Linked DNA regions of Homo sapiens. The protein of the gene in region 1 purifies or fractionates together with the protein of each later gene. This does not show direct contact. Each region holds a gene or a part of one and is shown in the gene's direction. Other genes may lie near its edges.

Region 1 (3,500 bases):
CCATGTTGGCCAGGCCGGTCTCGAACTCCTGACCTCAAGTGATCTGCCCGCCTTGGCCTCCCAAAGTGCTGGGATTACAGGTGTGAGCCACCGTGCCTGGCCTTTTTTTTTTTTTTTTTTAACAACCTCACACTAAGGAGCAATTGTAAATCTGCTGCCTCCTTCATTTTAAGTACATTAAACATACCAATTTTAGAATGAAAAAATGAAGGCTGATTGACTGTGGTGGCAGATACGTGACTGTATGCTCTTGTTTATTGAAACAGTGTTGTTTTTATGCTTTCTTAACATTTCAAGTCTCAATGTCTGTGTTTACAAGTGGTGTATTAAGAGCATGAAGGCTGGAGCCAGATGACCTGAATTTGAATTGGTGGCCTCATGCACTTTATTTAACCATTTTTTTTTCTGTCATGGTACCTAATTCATAGGTTGGTTTTGAATATTAAATAAGTTAATATGTTTCGAATACTTACAACATTGCCTGAAGTCTATTACACCTATGAAAGTGTTACATATGTAAAGTAACGATGATAGCTACCATGTAAACTATCACCACCCGCACTTGATCAAAATCACATATTATTTTGAAACTAATATGGCTAAAGCCTTCAAACTATTTGGCCTCATATAAGGAAGATTGAATAGATTTAAATGTCAAGAAGGAAGATTTTTGTGATTTTTTTTTCCCCCTCCTCAGTTAAGGCTTTAGGTGCTGTGTTAGAGTGGAAAATAATAACAAGCATTGGCACTAGGTGGGCTTGCATTCGTGTGCTAACTATGCTGTGTATTTCCAGTTTGATCATCATAGGATTTTTTTTTTTTTTTGAAACAGGGTCTTAGGTGCCTAGGCTAGAGTGCAGTGGCGTGATCATAGCTCACTGCAGCCTCTATCTCCCAGTCTCAAGCAGTTCTCCAACCTCAGCCTCCTGAATAGTGACCACAGGCGTGTACTACCATGCTTGGCTAATCTTTGTGTTTTTTGTAGAGATGGGCTTCACCATGTTGTCCAGGTTGGTCTTGAACTCTTGGGCTCAAGCGATCTGCCCACCATGGCAGGATGTTTCTTAAATGTCGGCTTTCATATCTGTAAAATGGGACTAAGACCCATGAGATTATTGGAGGAACAGAGAGATCTTTCTCCACCATATATCCCTGAAGTCCAATATGATCTCTGTCACATAGTAGGTGCTCAATAAATGCTAGTTGAGATTTATCCCTCATTTCCTCTATGTCTTGTCTGTGGGGTGTAGGAGCGTGTTTTCATGTGCGTGTTTGTGTGTGTGTGTATTCTCTCCAAGAAGTTACTCCCCACAGCCTACCTGATTAGTCATGGTTGGTATAAAGCATTTTTAGAAACAATTTTTTTTTCCCTCCATTCTTACGTTTCTTGGAAAACTCATTTATGGTGTGGTCATTTAGAAGTGGAATTTGGTCCCGTTTCTTGTGGAGAAATTTAGCAGAATAGGTCTGTGGACTAGTGTAGAATGTTATCTTGGAGTAATTCGGGCAATTGAGTCCAGTGTTGAGTACAGTGTCCCTAAAACACCATCTCTTTGTATCTATTTGGGAAGAGTGCCAAAGTAAAGACAATTCTGTGCTGTGCTCCCAAGAGGGCTTAAGTAGATCTGGGATTGGGTCCAGGAATTTATAGGTAATCACAATGTATCACTCTTTCTTTCTTGTAAAGCCAATAGAAATATCTAATTTTAGTTTTAATAAGGTTCTTGATAAATCGAAAATGGTATTATCTCCTAGATGACTTGGTCAACATGTTAAGGTATTTGGGCAATTTTTTAAAAATCTTAAACTGGCCTGTTTTGTTGAAGGTTTAAATAAGTAAGTTAAGCAGCTCCTATTATGAGACTTACGGTAAGTTCATTCTGAGGATATGGAAAGTATCAGGCAGCATTATTATTTGCAAGAAACTGGGGTATAAGAGGTAACAGTAGTTTAAGGAGATGACAAGTACTTCGTGGGATGTGAAGAAAATGTTGGAGGGTTAGCTGCTGAAAGGGTATTGTTAATAGCGCTTTACTGTCTTGATTTGAGCCCTGTGGCCAACTAATATATGTCAATTTCTTGCCTGGAGATTGAATAATACATTAGGAAACATTTAGATTAGATCCATTTTAGGGCTCTTACTGTGAATAATGGAAATCTGCCAGAGTTAGTACATGCCCTGTCAGAAAATGTCATGCCTCTATTTTAGTACTGTTTCTAAATAGGAGGAAAAACTACAGACACATTACCTCTCTGGTTAATATTACTACTTTGGTCACTCCAACTCTCTTCTCACCTTTGAATAGACACAGTCTAAGCAGAATCTTAAGATTTTAGAGCTGCCATGTTGGCGTTAGCCTGTAGCTACTTAGGAGGCTGAGGTGGAAGGATCTTGAGGCCAGGAGTTCAAGTATAGCTTGGGCAATATACCAAGATCCTGTCTCAAAAAAAAAAAGAGAGAGAGGTTTTAAGTTTATGGGAGATTATTTAATAAACTTGAAATTAGCATATCAAAGGACATTGCCCGGGTTTCTTTGGAGACTTGTGAATAATTAGAATAGTAATTTTAGATACATTTGTTGTTTTCTTCACTTTTGATGCTTTCTGTCATTCTAATACTTGTGAACCCTTACCACAACCATGAAATGCATTTCACTGTGATTAAGGATATATGTAAACAAAAAACAAAGCAAATTTAAGCACCGTAATAAGTGGAGTTCTGTGGGAGAACAGAAAGGAATGGTTAATTATTGGAGTTGAGGATAAATAGTTTCAAAGAAAAGATAGCATTTGAAATGAGCCCTAAGGGTGAGTAGAACTTTAATAGCTAAGAATGTAAAATACAGACTTAAGAGAATAATATAAACAAGAACATAGGAGCCTGGAAGAAAATACGTAAGTTATTTGAGGAGTGGTTTATAATCTAGTGTTGCTAGATTCAGAGAAACAATACAAAATGAGGTTGGGAAAGTAGATTGGGGCCAGAGAGTTGCATTGGAATGACAGAGAGAGGAGCAAGTTTCCTGGGCAAAGAGAAATGAATACTAGGGAGTTTAGCAGCAAGGCTACTTATAGTTGACATTATTTCTTTCAGAACATATTTATTCAGCCACTCACATGACCCACATTATTAAATATTGCAAGCTTTGGTAGTGTATCATGAGCATTCCTGTTAGATGGTCTTTCATATTCATTAACCACATTGCACATGCTATTAATGCTTATCTAGAATAGCCTTCCCTTCTTTTTCCCCTGATATATTTCTCTTTGCTTCTTCCGACGGCTAGCTCTGTTACTTACATTTTCTGGACAATATCTAGGTGCTTTTTTCTGAGTTTTTATAGCCATATATATGTCTTTTAATTATATTTCTTAAATGTGATATTTAATGCATGTTTTTCTCCTCAGCTAAAGCTCTACTATGGCAAGAACCTACTGTGGGGTATTTTTTGTCTCCCATTTGTGCCTTAGCACTAAGTATAGAATGATATATATTTAAT
Region 2 (3,500 bases), on another chromosome or scaffold:
TTAGTACTCACTGTGAGCTAGACACTATTCTGTTTTATGTGTAAATGAGTTTGTATGTGTCTGTACATACATATGTACATGTATATATTGATTCGTTTAATCCTCAGGACAGCTCTTTGAGATGGCACTATTAACATCTCCATTTTCCAGGGCAAGTCGAGGCACTAAGAGGTTGAATAACTTTCCAAGTCTTACTTCAAGCTAGAGGTGGGCCTTTGATTTGTGTATACAGCAGCCTTGTTCCAGAGCCTGCAAATTTAACCTCTAAACTTGCACAGAATGGAATATTTCCATTTTCATGGACAGTTCTGTTGGACAACACTGCTGTGGTGCCCTTGTTTGAAATGGTAGAACTTGTTTTCATTCACTTATTCATTCACTAGATTTTTGAGTGTTTACACATACCACGTATGATTCTAGACACTAGAATACAGGGATTCTAGTGTTACAGGGATAAGGAAGTGAGGGAGGGAGCTTATAGCATACACAAGGATGGACAAGGACATTAGATACTATTTCAGATTTGCTTTATGTTCTGCAGGTGAAACATCTTACACGGGACTGGAGAACCACAGCACATGCTTTGAAGTATTCAGTGGTCCTTGAGTTGAATGAGGACCACCGGAAGGTGAGGAGGACCACCCCCGTCCCACTGTTCCCCAACGAGAACCTCCCCAGCAAGATGCTCCTGGTCTATGATCTCTACTTGTCTCCTAAGCTGTGGGCTCTGGCCACCCCCCAGAAGAATGGAAGGGTGCAAGAGAAGGTGATGGAACACCTGCTCAAGCTTTTTGGGACTTTTGGAGTCATCTCATCAGTGCGGATCCTCAAACCTGGGAGAGAGCTGCCCCCTGACATCCGGAGGATCAGCAGCCGCTACAGCCAAGTGGGGACCCAGGAGTGCGCCATCGTGGAGTTCGAGGAGGTGGAAGCAGCCATCAAAGCCCATGAGTTCATGATCACAGAATCTCAGGGCAAAGAGAACATGAAAGCTGTCCTGATTGGTATGAAGCCACCCAAAAAGAAACCTGCCAAAGACAAAAATCATGACGAGGAGCCCACTGCGAGCATCCACCTGAACAAGTCCCTGAACAAGAGAGTCGAGGAGCTTCAGTACATGGGTGATGAGTCTTCTGCCAACAGCTCCTCTGACCCCGAGAGCAACCCCACATCCCCTATGGCGGGCCGACGGCACGCGGCCACCAACAAGCTCAGCCCGTCTGGCCACCAGAATCTCTTTCTGAGTCCAAATGCCTCCCCGTGCACAAGTCCTTGGAGCAGCCCCTTGGCCCAACGCAAAGGCGTTTCCAGAAAGTCCCCACTGGCGGAGGAAGGTAGACTGAACTGCAGCACCAGCCCTGAGATCTTCCGCAAGTGTATGGATTATTCCTCTGACAGCAGCGTCACTCCCTCTGGCAGCCCCTGGGTCCGGAGGCGTCGCCAAGCCGAGATGGGGACCCAGGAGAAAAGCCCCGGTACGAGTCCCCTGCTCTCCCGGAAGATGCAGACTGCAGATGGGCTACCCGTAGGGGTGCTGAGGTTGCCCAGGGGTCCTGACAACACCAGAGGATTTCATGGCCATGAGAGGAGCAGGGCCTGTGTATAAATACCTTCTATTTTTAATACAAGCTCCACTGAAAACCACCTTCGTTTTCAAGGTTCTGACAAACACCTGGCATGACAGAATGGAATTCGTTCCCCTTTGAGAGATTTTTTATTCATGTAGACCTCTTAATTTATCTATCTGTAATATACATAAATCGGTACGCCATGGTTTGAAGACCACCTTCTAGTTCAGGACTCCTGTTCTTCCCAGCATGGCCACTATTTTGATGATGGCTGATGTGTGTGAGTGTGATGGCCCTGAAGGGCTGTAGGACGGAGGTTCCCTGGGGGAAGTCTGTTCTTTGGTATGGAATTTTTCTCTCTTCTTTGGTATGGAATTTTTCCCTTCAGTGACTGAGCTGTCCTCGATAGGCCATGCAAGGGCTTCCTGAGAGTTCAGGAAAGTTCTCTTGTGCAACAGCAAGTAGCTAAGCCTATAGCATGGTGTCTTGTAGGACCAAATCGATGTTACCTGTCAAGTAAATAAATAATAAAACACCCAACTGGGAGTGCTGACTTTGAGGTTATAGATTGTGCCTGACAAAAGTCTGTGCCTGTCTGACAGAGCTGTGGGTGGTATGTCATGAGGCCCTGAGGAGCTTAGCAGAGACATCTTTCTTTTCTTTAAGAGAACATTTAAAAATTTTTTTATTTGTACACATTTATGGGCTACATGAGAAACTTTGTTACATGTTTATAATGCATAGTGATCAAGTCAGGGCATTTAGGGTTTCTCACTGTACCCCAGGGCAGCCCCAGGGCTCTCCTTGGGCTTCTGGCAGCCTGAGTGGTGTCTCATCACAGGGAATTTTACTGAGCAAAGGCAGCTTGGCGTATACTGAGGGTGTACAGTCCAGGACCCACAGCATTGATCTCACCTGGGAACTTATTAGAAATCCAGATTCTCAGGCCAACCCTAGGCCCACTGAATTAGAAAGTCTGGGAGAAAGGCCTGGAATTTGGGTTTTAACAAACGCTGCAGGTGATTCTGATGCACGCTGGAGAACCACTGGATGGACAAAGGCTGCAGGACTTGAGGTCAGTCCATTTGACCCCCAATCTCTCACTATTTTGTGACCTTGGGAAGGTTACTAAGCCCCGTGAACCTCATCATCTCCCTGTGAATTGCTTTGTTACGATGTCCATGTCTGGAATGCAGCTGGCCCTCCATAAATGTTAGCTCTCTTTCCTTCTCACTTGGGTTAATGTTTGTTATCATCAGGAGCTGCCTTGGTGTAGCAGAAAGAGCATTGGCCTAGATTCCAGTGTTGGCTTATGCTCTGGCTATTTGGCAGGATTTAATAGAGCTTGTTAATAATTATTGAACAGTGATTAGGTGCCAGGGACTATGCTAAGAGCTTTCCATGCATTATCTCATTTAATCTGCCCAAAAACTACAAGAGAAATGTTCAGGTATTATCTCTATTTTATTCCAGAAAAAAACAGACTTTACTTGGGTAATTAACTTGTCTAAGGCTTAACAGCTAAATTGGTAGAGTTGGGCTTGAAACTAGTGGTCTGGCTTTGGAGCCCACACTGTTTAACCACTAAGTGGTACTCAACATTTCTGATCTTTACTATCCATATTCAAAAAAGAATCCACCATAAAAGGTGCTAATATTTATTCAGCACCTTCCTACGTGCTAGGCATTGGGTTAGACACATTTCACTTACTCTCAGTGTCCATCATAAGGAATTATTATGCCAGTATCACACATGCAGCTGCTGAAGTAGGAAAATAATATCCCAAACTTGTGAAAATGGACAAAGATAGTATATCCTAAATGATATGGCTCTATACAAATTAGCAGGTGATTGTGATCTGGATAGTAAGATGCTTTGTCCCTTAAGATGCAGAAGAGTTCGTGTTAACTGGCAAATGCCTCCAGCAATGT
Region 3 (3,500 bases), on another chromosome or scaffold:
AGCAAGAACTGTATTTGAAATTTGGTTAAGTTTTTCATTTGGTTATCTTTTGTGACTAGTTCCAAAGAGGTGTTTGAAAGCTCGAGAACATTTTGGTACAGTAAAAACACATCTAACATCTTTGAAGACCAAATTTCCTGCTGAACAGTATTACAGGTTTGTAAGAAAAATAGCATTATTTTATAATGTTAAGTAAAAAAAAGGAGAAAAATTATGTGTACCAAATGATTGCTTACAACTAGGCAAACATCCTGTGTAGAAGTAACAAAAAGAGAAAAAACCGAACTAATAATGGTCATGACAAAAATTGGTGATTTTATTTTTTTCTTCTTTTTACTGTCTAAATCTTAAGGAACATGTATTACTTTTGCAGTGAAAAAGCAATTAAAAAGAAAATGTGGTATGAGGGTCAAAAGTGAGAATATCTTTTTGCTATATTCAAGTTTCTTGTGAAATTGGATGAACTATAGTTAGTGAAATAATGAGATTAGGTGGCAGTATATATATGGAGTCGAGTTTTACTTTGAAGCTTGAATTTCACTGCCAAGTGATGTAATTAGCTAATATTTTATGCCATGTTTTCTTATTAAAATCAACACTGTTGATTTTAAGATACACCATTATTTTATGTACCAGTAGGGAAGGAAAATTTTGCCAGTCATAAATGTGAAACATGGGCCAGGCGTGGTGGCTCACACCTGTAATCCTAGCACTTTGGGAGGCCTAGGTGGGCAGATCACCTGAGGTCAGGAGTTTGAGACAGCCTGGCTAGCATGGCGAAACCCCGTCTCTACTAAAAATACGAAAATTAGCCAGGTGTGGTGGCTTATCCCTGTAACCCCAGCCACTTCAGAGGCTGAGGCAGGAGAATCGCTTGAACCAGGCAGGCGGAGGTTGCAGTGAGCCAAGATTGTGCCATTGCACTCCAGCCTGGGCAACAGAGTGAGACTCCATCTAAAAAAAAAAAACAACTTGTGAAACATGGATTGTGAAATGTCTCCTGGTTTCATAGGTGTTAAACTGGGAAAAACTGCACCTGAATCAAAAGTTTCTACTTATTTTAATTTTCTTACTGAAAAAGATGTTCTTTTAAGACGTATATATCAGCAGTAAATAGGATGAGTATTTTCAGGGGGTGGGTAGTATAACCTTATGAGAATATTCTTTTAAGGGAGAGGTTGACAAACCACTAGTGGCTGCTGCCTCTGGGAGCTAAGAATTGCTTTTGTTTTTTCAAGAGTTGTTAAAAAAAAGAAAATCCCAGATAAGAATATGTAACAGTGAAAGCGTCCCACAAAGCCTAAAATATTTACTACTTGGCCCTTTACAGAAAACATTTGCTGATCCTTGCTGTAAGGCAGGGGTTCCCAACCCCCAGGCCATGGACTGGTACTGGTCTGTGGCCTGTTAGGAACTGGGATGCACAGAAGGAGGTGAGCGGTAGGTGAGCGAGTGAAGCTTCATCTGTATTTACAGCCGCTTCCCATCACTTGCAGTACTGCCTGAGCTCCACCTCCTGTCAGATTGGTGGCAGCATTCGATTCTCATAGTAGTGCGAACCCTATTGTGGACTGTGCATGCGAGGGATCTAGGTTGCATGCTCCTTATGAGAATCTAATACCTGATGATCTGAAGTGGAACAGTTTCATCCTGAAACCATCCGCCCCCCTTCTGTGGAAAAATTGTCTTCCATGAAACCAGTCCCTGGTGTTGAAAAGGTCAGGGACTGCTGTTGTAATAGCTGAAGCACAGAGAGAGGTAGGACAGTAGAACAGGTGGGGTCTTTAGAGACCATCTTCTCTGGAGGTCACACACAGGCTGCCCTCTGGCTGGATTTGGCCTTCAGAAGGGTTTGTGTGACCTGCATTATGTTGAGACCTTTTTTTTGAATGTATTGCCACATTTGAGAATCAGGAGGCATTGCATAAATATCCACAGGTTGTAAAATTTCCTTTTTTCAGGCTTCTAGCTCAGTATTCTATTTTAAGTGCATTTGTTTAGTGATTGCAAATGGTAATTTTGTGAATCAGAATTTTCTTGGTATTCTGCACTCAAATCAAAATGGAGGAATACGTTGAGGATGATACATAACTGCAGTTGTCTTCAATCATCAGTTACAAATTTTTATTTTTTTCAGAGCAGTATCACTGTTCTTACTGATTAAATTTAGAAGGCACAATTGCTCTTGTCATCTGTAATCTTCAGTTTTCTTTTTTCTGTCTTTTTTTTTTTTTTTTTGAGACGGAGTGTCGCTCTGTCGTTCAGGGTGGAGTGCAGTGGTGTGATCTTGCGCACTGCAACCTCTGCCTCCCAGGTTCAAGCAGTTCTCCTGCCTCAGCCTCCCGAGTAGCTGGGACTATGGGCGCCTGCCACCACGCCTGGCTAATTTTTGTATTTTTAGTAGAGAGGGGGTTTTGCCATGTTGGCCAGGCTGGTCTTGAACTCCTTACCTCAGATTGATCAACCTGCCTCTGCTTCTCAAAGTGCTGGGATTACAGGCGTGAGCCATCGCACCCGGCGTAAATTTTCATACTCATCAAAATTAGACCATATTTGTCACTGATTAAACTTAATTGTTATAAATTCGAACTTGTAAAATTAATGCTAAATGTCATATTTCTCTTTATATATTGGGGGTTTGTGTAAGATTTTATTTGAAAAATGATCGCATTTCTAAACCGTTTGAACATGGCTGTATTAAACCCATCTTTCTGAAGGTCCCTAACCTTGGAGGCTAAATGTGCTTATTTTCATGCAGATTTCATGAGCACTGGAGGTTTGTGTTGCAGCGCTTGGTCTTCTTGGCAGCATTTGTTGTGTATTTGGAAACAGAAACACTAGTGACTCGAGAAGCAGTTACAGAAATTCTTGGCAGTAAGTGTCTTTATTAGTGGGATCTGCAGAATCAGGCATGGTTGCTTACTTTTTGGTGGAAAGGGTGGTTGTACTTTGTTTATTAAAACAAACAAGAATTAACTAAAAACCACTTATAGTTGTAGCTTGGTATCTGAGGATGATGCTTCCAGAGCTCTTCCAATACCCAAATCTGAGGATGTTCAAGTCCCTTATATAACTGGTGTAGTATTTGCATATAACCTATACACATTCTCCCACATACTTTAAATCATCTCTAGATTTCTTAAAATATCTAATACAGTATAAGTGCTATGTAAATATTTTTTTTTTTTTGAGACAGAGTCTCTGTCGCCCAGGCTGGAGTGCAGTGGTGCAATCTCCGCTCACTGCAACCTCCACCTCCCAGGTTCAAGTGATTCTCCTGCCTCAGCCTCCCGAGTAGCTGGGATTACAGGTGCCTGCCACTATGCCCAGCTAATTTTTTGTATTTTTTTTTTTTTTCCGAAATGGAGTTTTGCTCTTGTTGCCCAGGCTGTAGTGCAATGACGCAATCTCAGCTCACCACAACCTCCACCTCCTGGGTTCAAGCATTTCTCCTACCTCAGCCTCCTGAGTAGCTGGAATTACAGGCATGCACCACCACA
Region 4 (2,290 bases), on another chromosome or scaffold:
TATTCTGAAAATGCCTTTCTCCTACCAAAATGTGCTTAAGCCACTAAAGAAATGAAGTGGCATTAATTAGTAAATTATTAGCATGGTCATGTTTGAATATTCTCACATCAAGCTTTTGCATTTTAATTGTGTTGTCTAAGTATACTTTTAAAAAATCAAGTGGCACTCTAGATGCTTATAGTACTTTAATATTTGTAGCATACAGACTAATTTTTCTAAAAGGGAAAGTCTGTCTAGCTGCTTGTGAAAAGTTATGTGGTATTCTGTAAGCCATTTTTTTCTTTATCTGTTCAAAGACTTATTTTTTAAGACATGAATTACATTTAAAATTAGAATATGGTTAATATTAAATAATAGGCCTTTTTCTAGGAAGGCGAAGGTAGTTAATAATTTGAATAGATAACAGATGTGCAAGAAAGTCACATTTGTTATGTATGTAGGAGTAAACGTTCGGTGGATCCTCTGTCTTTGTAACTGAGGTTAGAGCTAGTGTGGTTTTGAGGTCTCACTACACTTTGAGGAAGGCAGCTTTTAATTCAGTGTTTCCTTATGTGTGCGTACATTGCAACTGCTTACATGTAATTTATGTAATGCATTCAGTGCACCCTTGTTACTTGGGAGAGGTGGTAGCTAAAGAACATTCTGAGTATAGGTTTTTCTCCATTTACAGATGTCTTTGGTCAAATATTGAAAGCAAACTTGTCATGGTCTTCTTACATTAAGTTGAAACTAGCTTATAATAACTGGTTTTTACTTCCAATGCTATGAAGTCTCTGCAGGGCTTTTACAGTTTTCGAAGTCCTTTTATCACTGTGATCTTATTCTGAGGGGAGAAAAAACTATCATAGCTCTGAGGCAAGACTTCGACTTTATAGTGCTATCAGTTCCCCGATACAGGGTCAGAGTAACCCATACAGTATTTTGGTCAGGAAGAGAAAGTGGCCATTTACACTGAATGAGTTGCATTCTGATAATGTCTTATCTCTTATACGTAGAATAAATTTGAAAGACTATTTGATCTTAAAACCAAAGTAATTTTAGAATGAGTGACATATTACATAGGAATTTAGTGTCAATTTCATGTGTTTAAAAACATCATGGGAAAAATGCTTAGAGGTTACTATTTTGACTACAAAGTTGAGTTTTTTTCTGTAGTTACCATAATTTCATTGAAGCAAATGAATGAGTTTGAGAGGTTTGTTTTTATAGTTGTGTTGTATTACTTGTTTAATAATAATCTCTAATTCTGTGATCAGGTACTTTTTTTGTGGGGGTTTTTTTTTTGTTTTTTTTTTTTTGTTGTTGTTTTTGGGCCATTTCTAAGCCTACCAGATCTGCTTTATGAAATCCAGGGGACCAATGCATTTTATCACTAAAACTATTTTTATATAATTTTAAGAATATACCAAAAGTTGTCTGATTTAAAGTTGTAATACATGATTTCTCACTTTCATGTAAGGTTATCCACTTTTGCTGAAGATATTTTTTATTGAATCAAAGATTGAGTTACAATTATACTTTTCTTACCTAAGTGGATAAAATGTACTTTTGATGAATCAGGGAATTTTTTTAAAGTTGGAGTTTAGTTCTAAATTGACTTTACGTATTACTGCAGTTAATTCCTTTTTTGGCTAGGGATGGTTTGATAAACCACAATTGGCTGATATTGAAAATGAAAGAAACTTAAAAGGTGGGATGGATCATGATTACTGTCGATAACTGCAGATAAATTTGATTAGAGTAATAATTTTGTCATTTAAAAACACAGTTGTTTATACTGCCCATCCTAGGATGCTCACCTTCCAAGATTCAACGTGGCTAAAACATCTTCTGGTAAATTGTGCGTCCATATTCATTTTGTCAGTAGCCAGGAGAAATGGGGATGGGGGAAATACGACTTAGTGAGGCATAGACATCCCTGGTCCATCCTTTCTGTCTCCAGCTGTTTCTTGGAACCTGCTCTCCTGCTTGCTGGTCCCTGACGCAGAGACCGTTGCCTCCCCCACAGCCGTTTGACTGAAGGCTGCTCTGGAGACCTAGAGTAAAACGGCTGATGGAAGTTGTGGGACCCACTTCCATTTCCTTCAGTCATTAGAGGTGGAAGGGAGGGGTCTCCAAGTTTGGAGATTGAGCAGATGAGGCTTGGGATGCCCCTGCTTTGACTTCAGCCATGGATGAGGAGTGGGATGGCAGCAAGGTGGCTCCTGTGGCAGTGGAGTTGTGCCAGAAACAGTGGCCAGTTGTATCGCCTATAAGACAGGGTAAGGTCTGAAGAGCTGAGCCTGTAATT
Region 5 (3,500 bases), on another chromosome or scaffold:
TGCTATAAGTATAAAATACACATTGAGGCCAGGTGCAGTGGCTCATGCCTGTAATCTCAGCACTTTGTGAGGCTGAGGCGGGCAGATTGCTTGAGCCCAGGACTTTGAGACCAGCCTGGGCAACATAGTGAAACCCTGTCTCTACAAAAAATATAAAAATTAGTCAGCGTGGTGGCATGCGTCTGTAGCCCCAGCTGCTGGAAAGGCTGAGGCAGGAGAATCACTTGAGCCTGGGAGGCGGAGGTTGCAGTGAGCCAAGACCATGTCACTGCACTCCAGCCTAGATGACAGAGGGAGACCCTCTCTCCAAAAAAAAAAAACCAGACACATTGGAGTCCAGAAACTAGGCCGAGCATGGTGGCAGAAACTCTCCCAAAGAGTTAAAATATCTCATTAATAATTTTTTATTTATAACACTGAAATGAAAATATTTGGGATATATTAGGATGAATAAAATAGAATTTTTAAATTACATGTGTCTGTTTCTTTTTATTTGTTTGTTTTTGAGAGAAAAAGAGAGTTTCCCTCTGTCGCCCAGGCTGGAGTGCAGTTGCGCAATCTTGGCTCACTGCATCCTCCATCTCCTGCGTTCAAACAATTCTCCTGCCTCAGCCTCCCGAGTAGCTAGGATTGATTGTAGGTGCATACCACCACACCCGGCTATTTTTTGTATGTTTATTAGAGACGGAGTTTCACCATGTTGGGCAGGCTGGTCTCGAACTCCTGACCTCAAGTGATCCGCCTGCCTCGGCCTCTCAAAGTGCTGGGAGGTGGGCTTGAGCCACCATGCCCGGCCCTGATTCTTTTTTTGTTAATTTGGCTGCTAGAAAATTTAAACTTACATATGTGGCATATGTGGCTTAAATTGTATTCATGTTAAATAGCACTGTTTTGGGATGAGGGGTCACTTATACTGGAATTCCTTATTCTCTGTCACTTTTGACCATCAAGAATTCCAAAGTCAGTTTGTTAATCACACTTTCAGAAATAACCTGATTTGGTGAATTGTTTCTCTTATATCCCCAGCCTTCATAAATCTTATTAGATAGTTTGACTCCTGTTGAATTCAATGCACTATTGATACAGCCCTTAAAGCATTAAAAATAATTATTCAAGGTGATTGAGAGTTAAAACATTGTAGTTTCAAATTAGCTAGTGCCTGATTGCACCCCCCAATAGGGCAATTTCAGGAAGCCAGAGGAAAATACAATGAACACTATAGAGGTTCTGTTTCTAAGAACAGAAGTTCTTAGAAAGTTCTCAGGTTAATGGAAAAGAAAAACACAGGACAATTTATGAAAAATATCATTTCCAAAAGACAGAACACAAATGTGTACCAAATAATAACATGCTTCTTGAATTGTACAGATTTAATACACAAATACTAAGAAAATGCAAAGGAATCATTGAAAAGTAAGATACAAGATAAATTCTGGAAATTGCTTGCTTTTTTTTTTTTTTTTGAGACGGGAGTCTCGCTTTGTTGCCCAGGCTGGAATGCAGTGGCACAATCTCGGCTCATTGCAACCTCTGCCTCCTGGGTTCAAGCGATTCTCGTGTCTCAGCCTCTGTAGTAGCTGGGATTATAGACGCCTGCCACCACACCTAGCTAATTTTTTGTATTTTTTGTGGAGGCAGGATTTCACCATGTTGACCAGGCTGGTCTCGAAATCCTGACCTCACATGAGCCATTGTCCCCAGCTGGAAATTGCTTTTAAGCAGATATTAAAGGTGGGAATTATCATAAATTATGAAGAGTATGACTTTTTCAAAAAAGCATGAAGTGAGTCGTTGTTTTCTCTAAAGTAGTGCCTTTTCCCCCAAGTCCGGAAATATTAGGACATGTTATTTCATATAGGAAGCAAAGTCTGGAAAGTAGTAGGATGTAATATCTCTTTTCTTTGTTGAAACAGTCGAGGACAGGAAGGAAAAACCTGCAGAGAAGTCAGCTGTATCCACTTCTGTACCTACAAAGCCAACAGAAAATATCTCAAAGGCCTCTTCATGTACCCCAGTGCCTGTGACCATGACAGCAACTCCACCTCTTCCAAAGCCTGTGAATACTTCTCTTTCCCCTTCCCCAGCATTGGCTTTGCCAAACCTGGCTAATGTGGATCTGGCAAAGATCAGTTCCATCCTTAGCAGTTTAACATCAGTCATGAAAAATACTGGTAAGTAAGCCCAGTAAGGAGGATAAAAAGTTAATTTCCATCTTTTTAAATTGAATCATTAATCTGTTTTTGGGGGGGTTGTTGTTGTTGTTGTTGTTGTTGTTTAGACAGAGTTTCGCTCTGTCTCCCAGGCAGGAGTGCAGTGGTGCAATCTTGGCTCACTGCAACCTCTGCCTCCCGGGTTCAAGTGTTCTGCTGCTTCAGCCTCCCAAGTAGCTGGGATTACAGGCACCTGCTACCACGCCCGGCTAATTTTTGTATTTTTAGTAGAGATGGGGTTTCACCATGTTGGCCAGGCTGGTCTTGAACTTCTGACCTCAGGTGATACACCCACCTCGGCCTCCCAAAGTGCTGGGATTATAGGCGTGAGTCACCGTGCCCAGTCTGTTGTTGATTTTTTTTAATTAATGATTTTTTTTTTTTTTTCTGAGACGGAGTTTCAGTCATGTTACCTAGGCTGGAGTGCAATGGTGCAAACTTCACTCACTGCAGCCTCCATCTCCCAGGTTCAAGCAATTCTGCCTTAGCCTCCCAAATAGCTGGGACTACAGGCATGTGCCACCATGCCCAGCTAATTTTGTATTTTTGGTAGAGACGGGGTTTCACCATGTTGGTCAGGCTGGTCTCAAACTCCTGACCTCAGGTGATCCACCCATCTTGGCCTCCCAAAGTGCTGGGATTACAGGCGTGAGCCAGCGCACCCAGCTAAATTAATTGTTAAATTAAAAAATAATCCAATAATCGGTCATTATAGAAAAATTAGAAAATAAGCAAAGAGAATGAAATAAATATCTAGGCCAGGCGTGGTGGCTCATGCCTGTAATCCCAGCACTTTGGGAGGCTGAGATGGTAGATTGCCTGAGGCCAGGAGTTCGAGACCAGCCTTGGCAATATAGTGAGACCCTATCTCTAAATAAAAAATTTTAAATGAAAAAAATTTTTTAATAAATATCTATAATCCTGTTACCCCAAAGGAAACCACTTGTGTTTACCCTTAAAAGTATATGTGTATATGAATGTTTTGGAGAATTAAATATGTATAACAATTTTTAAAAAAGTAAGTGTATTGCATATACTGTTTCAAAACTAGCTATTTAAAAGTTAATTACATATCTTGAATGTTTTTATGAATCATTAAATATTTCTCTACATCATTTTTAATAGCTGCATAGCATGTGGTAACTTATCTAATCCTTTATTATTAGGCACTTAGTATGTTTCCAGTTTTTTACTGTTATGAAGAATACTATAGGGCCAGGTGTGGTGGCTCACGCCACCACTTTGGGAGGTGGAGGCAGGTTGATCACTTGAGGCCAGGAGTTGGAGACA
Region 6 (3,327 bases), on another chromosome or scaffold:
TGTGACAGCCCACAGCTTGCTTCTGCCTCGTTTGCCTCCATGCAGCTAGGTCGGTCCCATGCCTCTTTGCACTGGCCCAGCGCAGCAGGCCACAGGCCCCAGCTTTACACTCAGTCCTGGATGAGTCTCTTGTTTCGGGGTGGGCACATTTGATTGACTCAGTGTTGGGCCTGGGGTCCTGTTGCTCAGGCATGCTTATTGAGGACTGAATCCTGCAAAGCTGAGTGACAGTTGTCAGAGAAGATGATGGTCCCTGGGCAGACACCCAGGCAGTAGTAGCCACTTGGGGCTCCTGTCCTGCCTCCCAGCCCTGTGTCCTGGCTCTGGACTCGCCTGTGCTAGGGAGACCACGCTCTCAGCTGCTGAGCCTCGGAGCTTACCAGGCATGTTCTTACCTTACTCTGGTCTCTCTGGGGTGGAGTGGGTTCTTATAGCTCTGCTGTTTCCTGTTGGGGCGGGAAAATGCTAGAATCTCAGTCTTTCCAGAATCTCAGAATCTTCTAGTTCAATTGCCATTCAAACTTTTTGTTGGTGTTAGCCAATAACATCTTGACTCGGTGCACCCGCAGAAATACTGTAACCTAAAGTTTGAGGAAACAGTTTTTTCTATGTAGTAAGTATATAGTTGTATTCTGCTGTTTTGTTTCTTAAGATGTTGGTTGCAACCCATCAGATTGATGATGGGACTCATTTCTGGGTCATGACCTGAATATAGGAAAGGCTAGTCTAGCTGCCCTGTGCCTGTGACATGGCAGGTGCCTGGTCCGCTGCCTGCTTCTATAAGAATGTCTCCCTGCAGCCTCTTTTCTATACAGAACTCAGCCCTGCCTCACGGAAGCTTTTCCAGGCAGTGCGAGATAGAGGAGCGCTTGAGAAGGCAGGTTTTGCAGCAGACGGCAGTGACAGCCCAGTTCTGCACCTTCTTTGCTGAGTCACTGTGGGCCAGTGACTTGATCTGAGATTGTTTCCCCATCAGAACCATGAGGTTATCATCTGTGCCTTGGGGCTGTTCATCTATCTATTCACTTGACACACACACATCCACCTTTCTATACCAGCTGCAGCGCCACCTGCTGGTACCGTGAGCAAGAGCTGGGCATGCCCACGGTTCCGGTGCCCTGCAGTCTGGTGGGAGAGGCAGGTAGGGGTCGACTCAGGTAGCAAACCTGAAACTCCAGGGGAAGGAAGCGTTTCTGCAACTGTGAGTACATAGGACTGTGAGGAGAGACTTCCCGAGAAAGGATGTTCGGGCTAGCGTTAAGGGTGAGCGTGAGTTCACCAGAGAAGGAAGGGGAGACCAGTCCAGGGCAAGGAGAATGCACAGACACTGGCAGGAAGGTGAGCGTGGGGACACTGGGAAAGGCCTGGGACACGCAGCCAAGAGCCGCGGCTCAGACGCTAGCAGGGCCCGCTCTTGCTGCCTCTACCACCAGTTGACGAGGAGTTTGGACCTTAGGCTGGGGGACGCCAGCAAAGGCTTCTAAGCAGATCACATTTTTGGGTGGAAAGATCATTGGCTTCGGGTTTCTGTGAGGGCGAGGATGATTGGAAGGGAGGGTTTTGAGGAGGCTGTGAAGTGCGCTATGGTTAAGATGATGCGCTTTGGGGCCAGACATGGGTTCCAGTAACGGCTGTTGCCTAGCGAACGCTTTGTGTGAGTTAATTAGAGAAGACGTGGCTGTCTTGTGATGGGAGTGCGCGGGATGAACTGCACGGGGGGACCCGGCCCTGTGAACACTAAGCCAGGGGCTGCCTTCCTGCCCTTTGCTCTTGGAGTCGGCTCATTTCTGCTCCTCCGGGCCCTGTCCCTGCCCAGATTCACCCTCTGTCCGTCTGCCCTGCCCCAGGAGGAGGCCTCGGTGGTACCAGAAGAGGAGGGGCTGATGTGAACATCCGGCATTCAGGCCGCGATGACACCTCCCGCTACGATGAGAGGTAAGATTGGGCGACCGGTGTCCTGGGGTGGGGGGCGGTCACGGGGGGAGCCCAGCCACACAGGTCTGCCCACCTCATCCAGGCCCGGCCCCTCCCCGCTTCCGCACAGGGACCGGGACCGGGACCGTGAGCGGGAGCGCAGAGAGCGGAGCCGGGAGCGAGACAAGGAGCGAGAACGGCGACGCTCCCGCTCCCGGGACCGGCGGAGGCGCTCACGGAGTCGCGACAAGGAGGAGCGGAGGCGCTCCAGGGAGCGGAGCAAGGACAAGGACCGGGACCGGAAGCGGCGAAGCAGCCGGAGTCGGGAGCGGGCCCGGCGGGAGCGGGAGCGCAAGGAGGAGCTGCGTGGCGGCGGTGGCGACATGGCGGAGCCCTCCGAGGCGGGTGACGCGCCCCCTGATGATGGGCCTCCAGGGGAGCTCGGGCCTGACGGCCCTGACGGTCCAGAGGAAAAGGGCCGGGATCGTGACCGGGAGCGACGGCGGAGCCACCGGAGCGAGCGCGAGCGGCGCCGGGACCGGGATCGTGACCGTGACCGTGACCGCGAGCACAAACGGGGGGAGCGGGGCAGTGAGCGGGGCAGGGATGAGGCCCGAGGTGGGGGCGGTGGCCAGGACAACGGGCTGGAGGGTCTGGGCAACGACAGCCGAGACATGTACATGGAGTCTGAGGGCGGCGACGGCTACCTGGCTCCGGAGAATGGGTATTTGATGGAGGCTGCGCCGGAGTGAAGAGGTCGTCCTCTCCATCTGCTGTGTTTGGACGCGTTCCTGCCCAGCCCCTTGCTGTCATCCCCTCCCCCAACCTTGGCCACTTGAGTTTGTCCTCCAAGGGTAGGTGTCTCATTTGTTCTGGCCCCTTGGATTTAAAAATAAAATTAATTTCCTGTTGATAGTGGGCACCTCGGTTTCTTCCTCACTGCTCTGTTTTCCCCAGAAGGTTGTTCCTGACTTGATAGCCCTGCTTGGTTTGGTTTCCAGGGTGTACTTAAAACTTGAGCGTTAGGACATGAGGCTGGCTCTGCCCAGTAGCCAGAGCTGTTGAAAGTGGGGTGAGGCGGCCTCTCGGGCTCCTTGTCTCCCTTGTGTTTTTCACCCTTTTTTCTTTTTCATCTCTGCCACACATTCCTCAGGGCTGACCATACCCCTGTCTTGGTGGGGGGCTGGGAATTAGGAGGGGGCTTGATTACTCAGGGGAAGCCGCAGTTTTGAATATGCAAGGGAAGCTACCATCTGCAAGGGAGAGCGGCACACAGGGTGAGGAAAGGCAGAATACACTGGGCACGGGTGAGACGGGGCAGAGCAGGAAGGGTGGACCCACATCATAATAAGTAGTGACAGAGGAGCAACGAGCAGAAACACAGAAGAGGTTCCACCAGCAATTGAGATTTCA
Region 7 (3,500 bases), on another chromosome or scaffold:
AAATTGTCAGCTGAGGCCAAGAGTTCAAAACCAGGCTGGGGCACATAGCAAGACTGTCTCTTTTTTTAAAATAAATAAATAAATTCTGAGTATCAGGTTCTTCTGGACAATAAGAATAATGGCTCCTGCCATATCCCATTACTGTATGGAAGGAGGTAATGTATATAAAGCAGTCAGCACAGTGGAGTGCTCAGTAAGTTAGCTGCTCTGTCATTATCATCATCCTCCTCACAGCACTGCTTGTTCTTTCAGCTATAATGGTTGGATTGTGGATGGCTGTTTTATTTTCTATTTTTTTTGAGATGGAGTCTCACTCTGTCTGTCACCCAGGCTGGAGTGCAGTGGCATGATCTCGGCTCACTGCAATCTCTGCATCCTGGGTTCAAACTATTCTCCCATCTCAGCCTCCTGAATAGCTGGGATTATAGGCGCCCACTACCACGCCCAGCTAATTTTTGTATTTTTAGTAGAGACGGGGTTTCACCATGTGGGCCAGGCTGGTCTCAAACTCCTGACCTCAGGTGATCCACCCACCTCGGCCTCTCAAAGTGCTGGGATTACAGACGTGAGCCACTGTACCCAGCCAGCTTTTTTAAATATTAACATCAAACAAGTATCTTGAAAACTGAAAGAGACATAATCTTTTATTTTCATAACTTGCTGTGGCCCCAAAATGAAGCACACAATGACTAACTAAAGAACTAAAGATAGTGATGTTGAGTGGACAAAAAGCTTTCCAAGGTCTCTCTCTGGAGCAGAGTAAGTGGCCAGTGCATGTCAAGAGAGGAAGAAAAAAACAAGTGCCATGAGTGAACCTTTTAACATGTCACTTCTTTTCCCTGTCAGGGGGTGTCTTCCAACCTTTTCTTTGTAGAACACAACTTTCCTGAACAGGAAATCCAAGAGGGCAAAAGCCATCAGAACCAGCATGAGGCTCACTTTGTGGTAGAGCTGTGCAAGTACTTCCTGTGCCAGGAATACCTGCCTTCCCAGATCACCATCCTCACTACCTATACCGGGCAGCTCTTCTGCCTGCGCAAACTGATGCCTGCCAAGACATTTGCTGGCGTCAGGGTCCATGTTGTGGACAAATACCAAGGGGAAGAGAATGACATCATCCTCCTCTCGCTAGTGCGGAGCAACCAAGAAGGCAAGGTGGGTTTTCTGCAGATATCCAACCGCATCTGTGTGGCCTTGTCCCGAGCCAAGAAGGGAATGTACTGCATCGGAAACATGCAGATGCTGGCCAAGGTGCCCCTGTGGAGCAAGATCATTCATACACTTCGAGAGAACAATCAAATAGGCCCCATGCTCCGGCTCTGCTGCCAGAACCACCCTGAAACCCACACCTTAGTATCCAAAGCTTCTGACTTCCAAAAAGTACCCGAAGGAGGCTGCAGCCTGCCCTGCGAGTTCCGCCTGGGCTGTGGGCATGTCTGCACCCGTGCCTGCCACCCTTATGACTCTTCACACAAGGAGTTCCAATGCATGAAGCCATGCCAGAAGGTCATCTGTCAGGAAGGGCACCGGTGTCCCCTTGTTTGCTTCCAGGAGTGTCAGCCTTGTCAGGTGAAGGTGCCCAAAACCATTCCTCGGTGCGGCCATGAACAAATGGTCCCTTGTTCCGTGCCTGAGTCAGATTTCTGCTGCCAGGAGCCTTGCTCCAAGTCTCTGAGATGTGGGCACAGATGCAGCCACCCATGTGGTGAGGACTGTGTGCAGCTGTGTTCAGAAATGGTCACCATAAAACTCAAGTGTGGGCACAGTCAACCGGTAAAATGTGGTCATGTGGAAGGCCTCCTGTATGGTGGTCTGCTAGTCAAGTGTACCACAAAGTGTGGCACTATCTTGGACTGCGGGCATCCTTGCCCAGGCTCCTGCCACAGCTGCTTCGAAGGGCGTTTCCATGAACGCTGTCAGCAGCCCTGCAAGCGCCTGCTTATCTGCTCACACAAGTGCCAGGAACCATGCATTGGTGAGTGCCCACCCTGCCAGCGGACCTGTCAGAACCGCTGTGTCCACAGCCAGTGCAAGAAGAAATGTGGGGAGCTGTGTAGTCCCTGCGTGGAACCCTGTGTCTGGCGCTGCCAGCACTACCAGTGCACCAAACTCTGCTCTGAGCCCTGCAACCGACCCCCATGCTATGTGCCTTGTACTAAGCTGCTAGTTTGTGGCCACCCCTGCATTGGTCTCTGTGGGGAGCCATGCCCCAAGAAATGCCGGATCTGCCACATGGATGAGGTCACCCAAATATTCTTTGGCTTTGAGGATGAGCCTGATGCCCGCTTTGTGCAGCTGGAAGACTGCAGCCACATCTTTGAGGTGCAAGCCCTAGACCGCTACATGAATGAACAGAAGGATGATGAAGTCGCCATCAGATTGAAAGTCTGCCCTATCTGCCAGGTGCCCATCCGCAAAAACCTGAGGTATGGAACTAGCATAAAACAGCGGCTAGAAGAGATTGAAATCATCAAGGAAAAGATCCAGGGCTCAGCAGGGGAAATAGCAACCAGCCAGGAACGGCTTAAGGCCCTGCTGGAGAGGAAGAGCCTCCTCCACCAGCTGCTTCCTGAAGACTTCCTGATGTTAAAGGAGAAGCTGGCCCAGAAAAATCTGTCAGTGAAGGACCTGGGTCTGGTTGAGAATTACATCAGCTTCTATGACCACCTGGCCAGCCTGTGGGATTCCCTGAAAAAGATGCATGTCTTAGAAGAGAAAAGAGTGAGGACTCGACTAGAACAGGTCCATGAGTGGCTGGCCAAGAAGCGCTTGAGCTTCACTAGCCAGGAACTAAGTGACCTCCGAAGTGAAATCCAGAGGCTCACATACCTGGTGAACCTTCTGACCCGCTACAAGATAGCAGAGAAGAAGGTGAAAGATAGCATAGCAGTAGAGGTCTATAGTGTCCAGAATATCCTTGAGAAAACATGTAAGTTCACCCAAGAGGATGAACAACTTGTGCAGGAAAAGATGGAAGCTCTGAAAGCCACCCTTCCCTGCTCTGGCCTGGGCATCTCAGAGGAAGAGCGAGTGCAGATTGTCAGTGCCATAGGTTATCCTCGTGGTCACTGGTTCAAGTGCCGCAATGGCCATATCTATGTGATTGGCGATTGTGGGGGAGCCATGGAGAGGGGCACGTGTCCTGACTGTAAGGAAGTGATTGGTGGCACAAATCATACTCTGGAAAGAAGCAACCAGCTTGCTTCTGAAATGGATGGAGCCCAGCATGCTGCCTGGTCTGACACGGCCAACAACCTGATGAACTTTGAGGAGATCCAGGGGATGATGTAGGAAGATGGTACACCACTGCCTTTTGCCCTCGCCACTGAATGACTGGGGCCAGCTCCCTAATGAAGGAACTGAAGTTTGTTTTTTATTATCATCCTTTTTAGGCTGGGCGCAGTGGCTTACGCCTGTAATCCCAGCACTTTGGGAGGCCGAGGCAGGCGGATCACGAGGTCAGGAGTTCGAGACCAGCCTGACCAACATGGCGAAACCCC

What was found.
Region 2: the proteins of STRAP (region 1) and LARP6 purify together in Homo sapiens (affinity purification with mass spectrometry; 2 studies listed by BioGRID and IntAct, with this or other methods). This does not show direct contact.
Region 3: the proteins of STRAP (region 1) and TSN purify together in Homo sapiens (affinity purification with mass spectrometry; 2 studies listed by BioGRID and IntAct, with this or other methods). This does not show direct contact.
Region 4: the proteins of STRAP (region 1) and TGFBR1 purify together in Homo sapiens (affinity purification with western blotting; 3 studies listed by BioGRID and IntAct, with this or other methods). This does not show direct contact.
Region 5: the proteins of STRAP (region 1) and RPRD2 purify together in Homo sapiens (affinity purification with mass spectrometry; 2 studies listed by BioGRID and IntAct, with this or other methods). This does not show direct contact.
Region 6: the proteins of STRAP (region 1) and SNRNP70 purify together in Homo sapiens (affinity purification with mass spectrometry; 3 studies listed by BioGRID and IntAct, with this or other methods). This does not show direct contact.
Region 7: the proteins of STRAP (region 1) and ZNFX1 purify together in Homo sapiens (affinity purification with mass spectrometry; 2 studies listed by BioGRID and IntAct, with this or other methods). This does not show direct contact.

The regions. Positions count from the first base shown.
Region 1 is NC_000012.12:15,885,387-15,888,886, forward strand, and holds part of STRAP (serine-threonine kinase receptor-associated protein), read left to right. Parts: intron 1-3,500. UniProt on the Homo sapiens protein: The SMN complex catalyzes the assembly of small nuclear ribonucleoproteins (snRNPs), the building blocks of the spliceosome, and thereby plays an important role in the splicing of cellular pre-mRNAs.
Region 2 is NC_000015.10:70,830,158-70,833,657, reverse strand, and holds part of LARP6 (la-related protein 6), read left to right. Parts: intron 1-541; coding exon 542-1,606; 3' UTR 1,607-3,500. UniProt on the Homo sapiens protein: Regulates the coordinated translation of type I collagen alpha-1 and alpha-2 mRNAs, CO1A1 and CO1A2. Stabilizes mRNAs through high-affinity binding of a stem-loop structure in their 5' UTR.
Region 3 is NC_000002.12:121,758,651-121,762,150, forward strand, and holds part of TSN (translin), read left to right. Parts: intron 1-59; coding exon 60-156; intron 157-2,758; coding exon 2,759-2,874; intron 2,875-3,500. UniProt on the Homo sapiens protein: DNA-binding protein that specifically recognizes consensus sequences at the breakpoint junctions in chromosomal translocations, mostly involving immunoglobulin (Ig)/T-cell receptor gene segments.
Region 4 is NC_000009.12:99,150,113-99,152,402, forward strand, and holds part of TGFBR1 (TGF-beta receptor type-1 isoform 1 precursor), read left to right. Parts: 3' UTR 1-2,290. UniProt on the Homo sapiens protein: Transmembrane serine/threonine kinase forming with the TGF-beta type II serine/threonine kinase receptor, TGFBR2, the non-promiscuous receptor for the TGF-beta cytokines TGFB1, TGFB2 and TGFB3.
Region 5 is NC_000001.11:150,458,147-150,461,646, forward strand, and holds part of RPRD2 (regulation of nuclear pre-mRNA domain-containing protein 2), read left to right. Parts: intron 1-1,913; coding exon 1,914-2,171; intron 2,172-3,500.
Region 6 is NC_000019.10:49,105,778-49,109,104, forward strand, and holds the end of SNRNP70 (U1 small nuclear ribonucleoprotein 70 kDa), read left to right. Parts: intron 1-1,847; coding exon 1,848-1,935; intron 1,936-2,017; coding exon 2,018-2,666; 3' UTR 2,667-2,827; downstream 2,828-3,327. UniProt on the Homo sapiens protein: Component of the spliceosomal U1 snRNP, which is essential for recognition of the pre-mRNA 5' splice-site and the subsequent assembly of the spliceosome. SNRNP70 binds to the loop I region of U1-snRNA.
Region 7 is NC_000020.11:49,247,058-49,250,557, reverse strand, and holds part of ZNFX1 (NFX1-type zinc finger-containing protein 1), read left to right. Parts: intron 1-846; coding exon 847-3,291; 3' UTR 3,292-3,500.